Linked DNA regions of Homo sapiens: region 2 is linked to region 1. Evidence: fine-mapped expression QTL. Tissue or cell type: whole blood. Region 1 holds a variant in brackets; the other region holds the start of a gene. All regions are shown on one strand. Distances are from middle to middle.

Region 1 (5,379 bases):
TGAAGTTGTCCAAGACAGACATTCAGATCTGAAATGGATCCTTTTAAGTGACACTAGCCTAATCTAACCACTGTGGATGCCCTTCAGTGCCTAGAAAATCTTTAAATAACTAATGCCCTGAACTGTATTTGGAAGAATCCATATGTGATAGTTCATTTTACATGTTAACTTGAATGGGCCATAGTGTGCCCAGACATTTGGCTAAACATTATTCTGAGTGTCTGTGGGGGTATCTCTGGATGAGATTAACATCTGAATCTGTAGACTGATTGCCCTCCTTAACATGAGTGAGCCTCATCCAAGCCATTGGAGATGTGAGTAGAAGGAAAAGACTGAGAGAGAATTTGCTCTTTCTGCCTGTCTTCTGGCTGGGACATTGGTCTTCTCCCACCTTTGGTGATATGGTTTAGATTTCTGTCCCCGCCCAAATCTCATGTCAAACTGTAATTCCCAATGTTGGAGGTGGGGCCTGATGGGAGGTGATTGGATCATAGGGATGGCTTTACCCCTTGGCTCTGTGTTGAGATAGTGAGTGAGACCTGGTTGTTTAAAAGTGTGTAGCACCTCCCTCCTCCCCCGACCCTTGGTCCTTCTGCTGCCACATAAGACATCTGCTCCCACTTTGCCTTCCCCCATGAGTTCCCTGAGGCCTCCCCAGAGGCAGATGGTACCATGATTCCTGTACAGCCTGCAGAACTGTGAGCCAATTAAACCTCTTTTCTTTATAAAGTTCCCAATCTCAGGCATTTCTTTATAGCAGTGCGAGAACAGACTAACACATTTGGATTCCGACTAGGACTCAGACTGGAAGTTACACCAGCAGCTTTTCTGCTTCTTAGGCCTATAGATCTTGGACTACAACTATACCTTCAGCTCTCCTGGGTCTTCAGATTGCATGTCTTGAGATTTCTTAGCCATATATATTATATACATATAATCCTTGGTCATAGGTCAATCACATTCCAATTTGCATTAAAAACAACTCTGGCAAAGTGGGGTTTTATAGAAAGATGAGAAATACAAACTTTCCATTCAGACCGGGATTTCCATTTTAGTTGATCAGTAGTCTAAGATCTTAACCCATCTTGAAATGTCAGTCCTGTGCTTCCAGCCTCTTCTCATATGCCTATCTCAAACTCATTTATTTCTTGTTTGCTTAGTTTTTTTCACCAGTACATTTGGGGATTTTAAATACCAGGAATGTGTGTGTATGTAAAACAAAGGCTATGTGTTGTATTATACCACTGTCCCAGAGCTCTGGCCCACTTTAAACAGGTTTTGTATAGTTCCACCTTGGTCAAAGATAGGGTGTTCCTTTCCTATCACCATCATTCCACAAGGTTACCAAGTCTTTCATCTTGGGACAGTGGTGAGGGTGCTTCAAGTTCTTTGTCAGATGGGCAGAATCTCAGGGCACAAACTGAGTGACAAAACTGAGGCTCTGGGCTGGCCACTGGCAACTGGTGGTTCTTACCAGCTGACAACTCTTTGGTTACATGCTTCCGGGCCATTGCTTAGTAGGAGTGTGAATGATTACAGGCTCACTGGTCAGTGGTCCATAGTCTAGTTGGTCATTTTGGCTCCTCCCATTCCTTTCTTCTTTCCCAGCAAGGCAAGAATGTTTTTCACCTTACTAAAGGCTTCTAATGGCCTAACTCACTATCGTTTTTGTCACTTTTGTTTCCAGTCCCATAGTGTGTAACTCCTGTCTACCTAGGTAGGGCAGGGGAGGAGAAGGGAGCCTTGGTTTACAAGTAAAATTATAATTTAGTGTGGGGGGAACAGCAATCACATTGATCAATATTTCAAAATCTACTCATTCATACTTTGAGACCCATAAAGTACTATTTCCTTCTTCTCTTCCTACTTGATTGGCTGCTGCTTCTCAGTCTCCTTTGTTGGGTCCTCCTTACCCTTTTTTATGTCATCCAAAGGACCACCAGGATGGCTAGATAGTAGAAAAGAAAGTTGGCCGGCACAGTGGCTCACACCTGTAATCCTAGCACTTTGGAAGGCCGAGGCGGGTGGATTGCCTGAGCTCAGGAGTTTGAGACCAGCCTGGGCAACACGGTGAAACCCCATCTCTACTAAAATACAAAAAATTAGCCAGGCATGGTGGCGTGCGCTTGTAATCCCAGCTACTCAGGAATCTGAGACAGGAGAATCATTTGAACCCGGGAGGCGGAGGTTGCAGTGAGCGAGATCGCGCCACTGCACTCCAGCCTGGGCGACAGAGTGAGACTCCATCTCAAAAAAAAAAAAAA[AAAAAAG/A]AAAGAAAGAAAGAAAAGAAAGTTTTATTCACAACATCAGTTTACAAACTCGGAGAGATAGTCTCTGGCTTGAACTGAAAGTGGTGCTCTCTCTGAAGAACAAAGAGAAGGTTAGAGGTTTTACAAAAAGGAGGAATGTTACATATTGCTCTTTGAGAAAGTTCATTGGCAGTAGTAAGGGTGTGGGGAGCTGACAAGCTCCAGTTGGTGAGCAACTGCGGTGGGCAAAATTAGTCCTAGAGTTGCAGCAACTTATCTCAGAAGCTATAGATAAAACTGGTTTTGGCTTATAATAAGCAGTTTCAGCAGTCAAGCTTACAGAGAATAACATTCCTGGAGCAATGTTGTGTACCCTGAGTGCTTCCCCCAGCTAATTTCTCGACTTTCTTTTATTAGGTATGACAAAAATGACCCAATTCTTATGATCAGCTTTCACATTTCTTAGCATTTACCACCACCTGACACATTTTTATATTTGTTTTCTGTTTATCCCACTAGAAATGTAAGCCCCATGAGAACAGAGACTTTACCTCTTTATCTATGTCCCTAGTGCCCAGAACAGTATTTGGCATATGGCAAGTACTCAGTAGTTGAATGAATGAATGAATCAAGGCTGAAGTTTAAGTATGTTGTTTAATGAATGCCAGGAGAGAACATAAAGAAATAAACAGAATAAGCCTGGCACGGTGGCTCACGCCTGTGATTCCAACACTTTAGAAGGCCAAGGTGGGGGTGGATCACCTGAGGTCAGGAGTTCAAGACCAGCCTGGCCAACATTGTGAAACCCCGTCTCTACTAAAAAAAAAAAAAAAAAAAAAAAATAGCCAGGCATGGTGGCACGTGCCTGTAATCCCAGCTGCTCAGGAGGCTGAGGCAGAAGAATCGCTTGAACCCGGGAGGTGGAGATTGCAGTGAGCCAAGATTGCGCCACTGCACTCCAGCCTGGGCAACAAGAGCAAAACTCCATCTCAAAAAAAAAAAAAAGACATAAACAGAATAACATGAACCTTGCTCATTGAATAAACATTCATCTACAACCTATATGGCTTCAGCTTTGTACTAGGTGCTAAATACATGGGATCCATGCAGACATGGCCTTTGCCCTTTTGGAGACTTGTTTCAGCCATAGTCCCATATAGGGGTGTCAGTTCCAGAAGTCCAAACTTAAGAGACTGAAGACCAAAGAGAGGATCAGAGTGCCAGTTTCCTTTATATACACCTGACTTTACCCAGGGCGATGGACAGCTAGAATAACCTCTTCTTTCAGGGGAGAGATGTCCCTACCATTTGCACATTACCTTGCACCATCAACTTGATTATTATTTAATATCATAGCTCCAATATGTCATCATGTGGGCAAGAGATACACCACAGTAAGCGAATTCACAAGAGGGTGATTTATAAGTCATGTTATTATTTATAGTGAGAATTGCATAAGTTCAAGAAGAGACCAGAAAAGTCACCTACCAGGTCATTCAGACGTGAAGGTCACTCCCTATCAACCTCAATTGAAATGCAAATCAAAATAGAAATGTCCAACTCTCTTAGGAGGCAACAGGCATCCTGAGACCCTGGGTCCTGTCTTTCATCTCTGCACCCTTCCGGTCTGAAACAGCGGCCAGTTCTTGTTCGATGTAAGGAACACTAGTACCCAAGGGCTCAGGAGTTCCGCCTCTCTTCCCCAGTTCTGGGAAAAGAAACGAACCATAGAGATGTGGCTTCCTAGAGATCCGGGATGAGGGGCGGGGTGCAACCGGAAGTCGCAGTATTCTCGGCTCGGCCATTATTCTGTGCCTCGGCTGCCGGAAGGGCTCGTTCCTGTGTCATCTCCTAGCGGCCTGGCGCCGAGGCGGCGGTACGCAAGGCTGGAGCCGCAGCGGGAGCCCCCGGTGAGCGGGGTGGGCTCGGGGGCGGGTGGGCGTGCAGGGAAGGCGGCCCGGGACGCGGGCCTGAGCTTGCTGGGACTGCACAGCCCTCGGTAGCCTCTCCCGGGCCCTGACCCCCGGCATGGTCCGTCGCCAGCTTCGTGTTGGGGTTCGACGTCGTGGCCTCGGCTGGGCAGGCAGCCGGCCCGAGGGAAGTACTGAGGACAGCAGCTCCGAGTCTGTGTGTGTTTGTGGACCGGTGCTCCTGTCTAACGGACTCTGCTGGCGCTTTGAGAAGAGCTGCCTCAGTAGCCTGCTCCCCCAGCTCAGGCCTTTCTGCTCTTCCTCAGTCTTGTCTGAGGCTAATCCACAGAAACATTCTGAGGTTTCCCTATTACCGGTGGCGCCCAGACTCTTGAGGACGGATTTTTTTGTTTGTTTGTTTTAAGGGGTGGAACGATTTTAGCTTTTTTAGTCTTTTAGTTTTGTAATATAATGGTATTTAAAAATCAAACTTGAAAAACTCAAACTTGAAACCACCCATACCAACATTACTTCAGGCAATACATTTTAACACAAAGTACTAAGACCGTAAACTCAGAATAAATGCTGGCCTTTGCGCGCGCGCGCGCACACACACACACACACACACACACACACACACACACTCATTGCCAACCTGTCAGCGACGATTGTTACTGGTTTTCTCTTTTTGCAGCTTACCAGATTAAAGCTTTGTCGTGGACTGGTGTTTGGAAACTGTTGTTTTAGAACAGTTTGGGTTGTTTGGGTTTCATAAGTTTCTTCGTAGATGGAATTGTTTTGGACTTCTGGAATTAGAATCCCTGAATTCAGAATTTGCTCCCATGTCTCAGTTAGCTAAGTGGCCTTGAGTGGATTCGCTCCTCTGATCCTTTTGTTTTTTTTAACTTCTGCTTTGAAAACCTTTTGTGAGAAGCTAATAAAATGTATGTTTAAGAATTTGTTATTTTTATGTTATTTGAAAATTATTCAAAATTCTTTTTAAAAATTCCTTTCCATCACCCCCAGATCAGTTACCAAGGACTACCAAGTTTTTCTCAATTGCCTTATCCCTACTTCGTTTAGAACTTAAGTCATGTGTTTAGACTATTAGAAAAACCTAACTGACCTTTCTTGATATCCAGCCCTCCCACCCCCACCATTTCTCACTAATAGAGTCCTGACACCACTTAAGACTCTCTTCATGCTCAGAGTGAAAAAGG
Region 2 (5,379 bases), 26 kb after region 1:
ACAGGAGGCAGAGGAACAAATAAAAGACACCACGAGAAACAGACACATCCAGAACGTGGAATATTGCATAAGAAAGCTGCCCTGGATTCTTCAAAATATTATTATGATGAAAAAGAGAGGGGAGTGAAAATTGTTCAAGCTGTCTTGAGTCTGCTGTGAGTTTATTATACCATTCTCTGCTTTTGTGTATGTATGAAAATTTCGATATGAAAGGTATAAAACATGGATGAGGAGGCTTGTTTTTAAAAGATAATACTAGAGAGCCGTTAGGTACTAAGAACCAGAAATAGACTCACATAAATGGCCAATTGATTTTTGACAGGGGCAAAAGCAATTCAATGGAGGAGGGATCGCCTTTTCAGCAAATACTGTTGGAGTAATTGGATATCCATAGGCAGTAAACCAACAACTTCAGGACCTAGGACTGAGCTAAGAAGGCTCAGATGACTCAAAAGCATGCTCCTTAGAAGGAAAAAAAATGTTAAATTGGACTTCATCAAAATTAAGATAATTTACCCTGTAAGAGACCTTTTTACAAAGATGATATTACAGGTTGGGAAAAAATATTTGCAAATCATATCCAACAAGGGATTTGTATGTAAACTACATAAAGAACTTTCCAAATTTAACAGTAATAAGTAAATACAATTAGAAAATAAGCAAAAGACAGACATTTCACTGAAGTATAGATAGCAAATAAGCAAATGAAAAGATGTTCAACATCATTAGGCATGAGGGAAATGCAGAGTAAAATCGTGAGATATCACCTATCAGAATAGCTTAACTTTTTTTTTTTAATGGTGGTAACTGCTGGCAAGGATGAAGAGAAACAGGATCTCATACATTGCTGGGAATGTAAAATGGTACAGCCACTCTGGAATATAATTTGGCAGTTTCTTGTAAAACCACACATGTATATGTCATGCTTCAGGAATTGCACTTCTGAGCATTTATCCCAGAGAAATGAAAACTTGCGTTCACACAAAAACCTGTATACGAATGTTCATAGCAGCTTTATTTGTAATGGTCGAAACCTGTAGGCAACCCATATATCCTTCCTTAGGTGGTTAAAACAAATTGTGGTTTATGTATTACCATGGAATACTTGTTACTCTGCAATAAAATTGACTTATTGATATCCATAACAACTCAAATAAATTTCAAGGGAATTAATGCTGAGTGAAAATAATCACAAAAGGCCATATTCTGTATGAAAATATTCATATAACATTCTCAAAATGATAAAACTATAGAGATGAAAAATGGATTAATGGTTGCCAAAGGTTAGGGATGGTGGGAGGAAAAATGGGGAGAGGGTTGGATGGAACTATTAAAAGGTAGCACCAGAAAGGTCTTTGTGGTGATGGAACACTTGTGTATCTTGATTGCAGTGGTGGTTACACAAATCTATAGGTGCTATACCTATACACACATACTGTACCAATGTTGATTTCCTTTTTCATTTTATGTAAGATGTAACCATGAGGGGAAAGTGGGTGAAGGGTGCTATCTTTGCAACTTCCTGTGATTCTATCATTTCAAAATAAAAAGTAAAAACCAACAATGGCAACGAAAACCCAAAACTAAAGAGCTGTAACCAACTAAAGTGTGTGAAACTGATTTGAAAAAAAGTTATAAAATACATGTTTTAGGACAGTTGGGAAATTTGAATATGACTGGTTATTAGATGGTATTAGGGAATTTTTGTTGATTTTCTTACCTGTGACGGTGGTGGTAGTTTGAAGAATATTCTTAATCTTAAGGGATGCATGTTGAAGTATTTGGAATGAAGTGTTCTGATGTTTACAACTTTCAAAAAAATGATTTTAAATATGTATTGAGAGATCAGGCAAACATAGCAAAATGTTCATTGTTGAGTCCACATGGAAAATACGGGTATTCAATGTGCCATACTTTCAACTCTTCTGTACTCTGATATTTTCAAAATAAAACATTTGAGGGGAAATTATCAGGGCTTTCTACAGATTAATGCTGTGTAGCTTCAGGCTCTTGGGTGCGCGCCTCGCCTGAGTGTCTCATCCCTGCTTGGGATGCGCCCCTCCCTGAGGCTCACTTAGAGCTTCCAACAGCACAATCCTCCTAAGCGCTTCTGCCCCATCCCTGGTCTGGGGCGACATTGGACACCCATCGAGAGGAAAGCACCTCCGAGGTTCCTAGAGAGGCCGGCTTGGCGACTTGGGGAGCCGGAAGCCCATCCCGAGGCACTTCCTGTCCGGTCATTGTTCTCGTGCCGGTAGAAGCTGAAGTACCGGTCAGCCAGCCTCCTGCTGCAGAGCCAGTGAACTCAGGTCGGGCTTCTCAGCTGCGCACAGTGAGTGGGGTCGGAGGGGGTGGGCACGAACGTCGAGGGAGAAAAAGGGGCTCTCCCAGGGGCCATGGCCCTAGGAGCGGCCCCTGCGTCCTTTCCCCGGGGACACCAGCCTTGTCTGTCGGGGTGCGGGGGGCAGTGAGTTCCCCACCGCCTCGGAATCCCGGCTGCTGCCCACCTGGGGCCTGGTCCGGGAGAGGATGCACACGGACCGGCCAAGGGGCCAGATAGGTCCCAGGGACAGGGCCGCGAGGAGCCTATACGTGGAAAGAATGGATTGCCACGTTTGGAAATAGAGAAAGGACGTTGAAAGGGAGCCTTTGATAGAGGGCCCTGTGCCGTCTGGGACCGGAGGTCCGTCAGAATCTGATCAGAAGTCTGATGAGAGTACTCACTGTAGGCAGTCTTATACACAAGGTGGAACTAGTCTTAAGGACCTTCATACCAGATTGAATTCGGATAGTGATGGAAAGAATAGTCCTCCAGAATTAAGGTTTGTCACAGGAATGAAAGTATTGCATTACTTAATAAATTCAGTGTATACAGTAAGTGGCCAGTAAGTTGACATGGGGAAAAGAGTATGATCACTTCAATAGCAGCAACAGGGGATTGAATAAGATTTCGCACCCTTTTCCAATAAAACATTCAAAGGGGGTTAGAAAGAAAAATTTCAATCTCTTCATAAGCAATCAAACTAGTAAGGTTATTTTGCTCACAGGTTAAAAACAAAAACCCTGCTGGCTTAGCTGTGATAAAGGGTTACTGTCAATTAGTGGGGGTGTGAATTGGCATGGTGCTTTTGGAAAGCAATTTGACAGTACATATCAACCAGCAAATCCTTGAACCAGTAATTCTCTGATTATTCTAAAGGAATAATTCAGCAAAAAAAAAATATTTACAAAGAAAAACTTTTAAATATTAATAAAATGGAAATATAAACTTTTACTAAATAAATGGTTCATAAATAGAATATGATTAAGTAAATGATAATATAGCCACAATTTAGAATACTATGCCAGAATGAGGTAGTTCTATATGTGTTGTATTGAAAGATTGTTAAGACTATTGTGAAATACGGAAATTGAGTTAAAAAACAATGCAGGTTGCTGAACAGTATATAACTGTGATGATCTAAAGTATGTTTTTGAAAAATAAGCAATATGTGTGAAGGTGAACATATAAGTATGTAAATGCAGAGAAAATGGGTTAGGACTCCCATCTAAACTGATAAGTACTTTGTGTGTGTGTGTGTGTGTGTGTGTAGTGTGTGTAGGTTATATATTTAATTCTATATATTTCTGTATTACTTGATCCTTTTTCAATGAGAGTGAAGATTTATCAACACCATAGGTTATTGTGTAGCATTTAAAATAAGCATGAAGAATGGCAACATGAAAGTAATCTTTTTTTAAATCTTAAGTGTAATATTTTATCTCACAGGACATTTGGAAGCTATGGAAAATGTAAAAATCAAACAAAAAAAATGAAAAGAACCTTAAAACTACCTGTAATTACACCATCCAGAGTTAACTACCCACTGCTAACACGTTGGTATAAAGACTCCCAGTCTTTTTCTTGGGATCCTTTTGTTCACATTATTTTGTATCCTTGGCAATAAAAAATCTTTTTGTTGTAAAATCCTTTTTTAAAAAATGCTATGATGATAATTGTGAAAATATGTATCCCCAAAGTCAAAAACAAGAATTTGTAAAATCATAATTATTAGTAGTATGGTTGGAGATTTTCCTTTGAAAGAAATATCTTAAATCTTAAAATGTATAGTGGTTATCTCTTTGGAGGTAGACCGAGATGATTTTTCTTAATCATTTGCTGCTTTTAAGTTTTTACAATAAAAGTAAGTTAACTTTTAATCAGGAAAAAATCAATAAACATTATATAAAGCTGTTTGCAATGTGGTTATTATGGGAAGATATTACATATTTATAGTCCAACCCCTTCATCCTATGAGGGAGGAATAGAGGATTCCATGTCCTACATTGGCCCCTGGCCAGGCGCTGGTGAAATTTGCCGGTGTGGCATCCGGCAAATTTGCTAAGTGGCATCCAGCAAATCTCTCCTTGGTGCTAACAGTGTTTTCTGATTTCTCAGTAGGCAGTACTCATCTTGGCCCTGGGAAGAAACTCAAGAAGAAGCTTTTGAAACATAAAGCTTGGATGGGGTTTGACCTCTGCAGGGCAGCGCCCAGCTATAGGAGTTCCCCTGCTGAGCAGAGAAGATGACTGCAGAATTGAGAGAAGCCATGGCCCTAGCCCCATGGGGCCCAGTGAAGGTGAAAAAGGAGGAGGAAGAAGAAGAAAACTTCCCAGGTCAGGCATCCAGCCAACAAGTGCACTCCGAGAACATCAAAGTCTGGGCCCCAGTGCAGGGTCTTCAGACAGGCCTTGATGGATCAGAAGAGGAAGAAAAGGTAAACGGGGGCCTGAGAGGAAGAGGGGAGGAGATACTTGAAGACCTCAAGTAGTTTAAGAGGGGACTCTGCCCCTCTGCTTCCACACCTGGAGTCTTATTTCTTGGGTACAATTCTAGCTTCCAGTCTTTTGTAATAGGATAGAAACATTCCCTTCTGATTGATGTGACATTCAGTACTTTCTGTAAACCAGTGGTTCTCAAATTTTGCTACACAGAACCTGGAGAGCTTTTTATAAAATCTTGATGTCCATACTGTATTCTATTCCTATTAAATCAGAATCCGTGGTCCAGGCACAGTGGCTCACACCTGTAATCCCAGCACTTTGGAGGCCAAGGCGGGAGGATCACTTGAGGTCAGGAGTTCAAGACCAGCCTGAGCAACATTGCACACCTCGTGTTTTGCAATGCCGAAATACAAAAAATTAGCTTGGCATGGTGGCACGTGCCTGTAGTCTCAGCTACTTGGGAGGCTGAGGTGGGAGGATTGATTGAGCCTTGGAGGCATAGGTTGCAGTGAGCCGAATTCATGCCACTGCACTCTAGCCTGGGCAATAGAGTGAGACCCTGCCTCAAAAAAAAAAAAAAAAGAATCTAAGGGTGGGACCTGGGTATCCATGTTT

What was found.
Region 2: ZNF35 starts here. The variant in region 1 is fine-mapped to the expression of ZNF35 in whole blood (INTERVAL, PIP above 0.99).

What each region holds. Positions count from the first base shown.
Region 1 is chr3:44,620,985-44,626,363 of GRCh38, forward strand. The region is part of intron 2 of ZNF660-ZNF197 (ZNF660-ZNF197 readthrough); the gene reads left to right. It overlaps ZNF197 (zinc finger protein 197), which reads left to right and starts at 4,052. Exons shown (of 6, transcript NM_006991.5): 1 at 4,052-4,159. All of the region lies in intron 2 of ZKSCAN7-AS1 (ZKSCAN7 ZNF cluster antisense RNA 1), which reads right to left. It overlaps ZNF197-AS1 (ZNF197 antisense RNA 1), which reads right to left and starts at 3,813. Exons shown (of 2, transcript NR_046658.1): 1 at 3,738-3,813. RefSeq lists a silencer at 4,056-4,405 and an enhancer at 4,385-4,887. The variant AAAAAAG/A (reference allele first, on the strand shown) is at 2,265.
Region 2 is chr3:44,646,503-44,651,881 of GRCh38, forward strand. It overlaps ZNF35 (zinc finger protein 35), which reads left to right and starts at 2,230. Exons shown (of 4, transcript NM_003420.4): 1 at 2,230-2,332; 2 at 4,439-4,757. The coding sequence starts at 4,566. It overlaps ZNF660-ZNF197 (ZNF660-ZNF197 readthrough), which reads left to right. Exons shown (of 8, transcript NR_147692.2): 8 at 1-1,969. It overlaps ZNF197 (zinc finger protein 197), which reads left to right. Exons shown (of 6, transcript NM_006991.5): 6 at 1-1,969. The region is part of intron 2 of ZKSCAN7-AS1 (ZKSCAN7 ZNF cluster antisense RNA 1); the gene reads right to left. RefSeq lists enhancers at 1,915-2,474, 2,353-2,522, 2,603-2,712.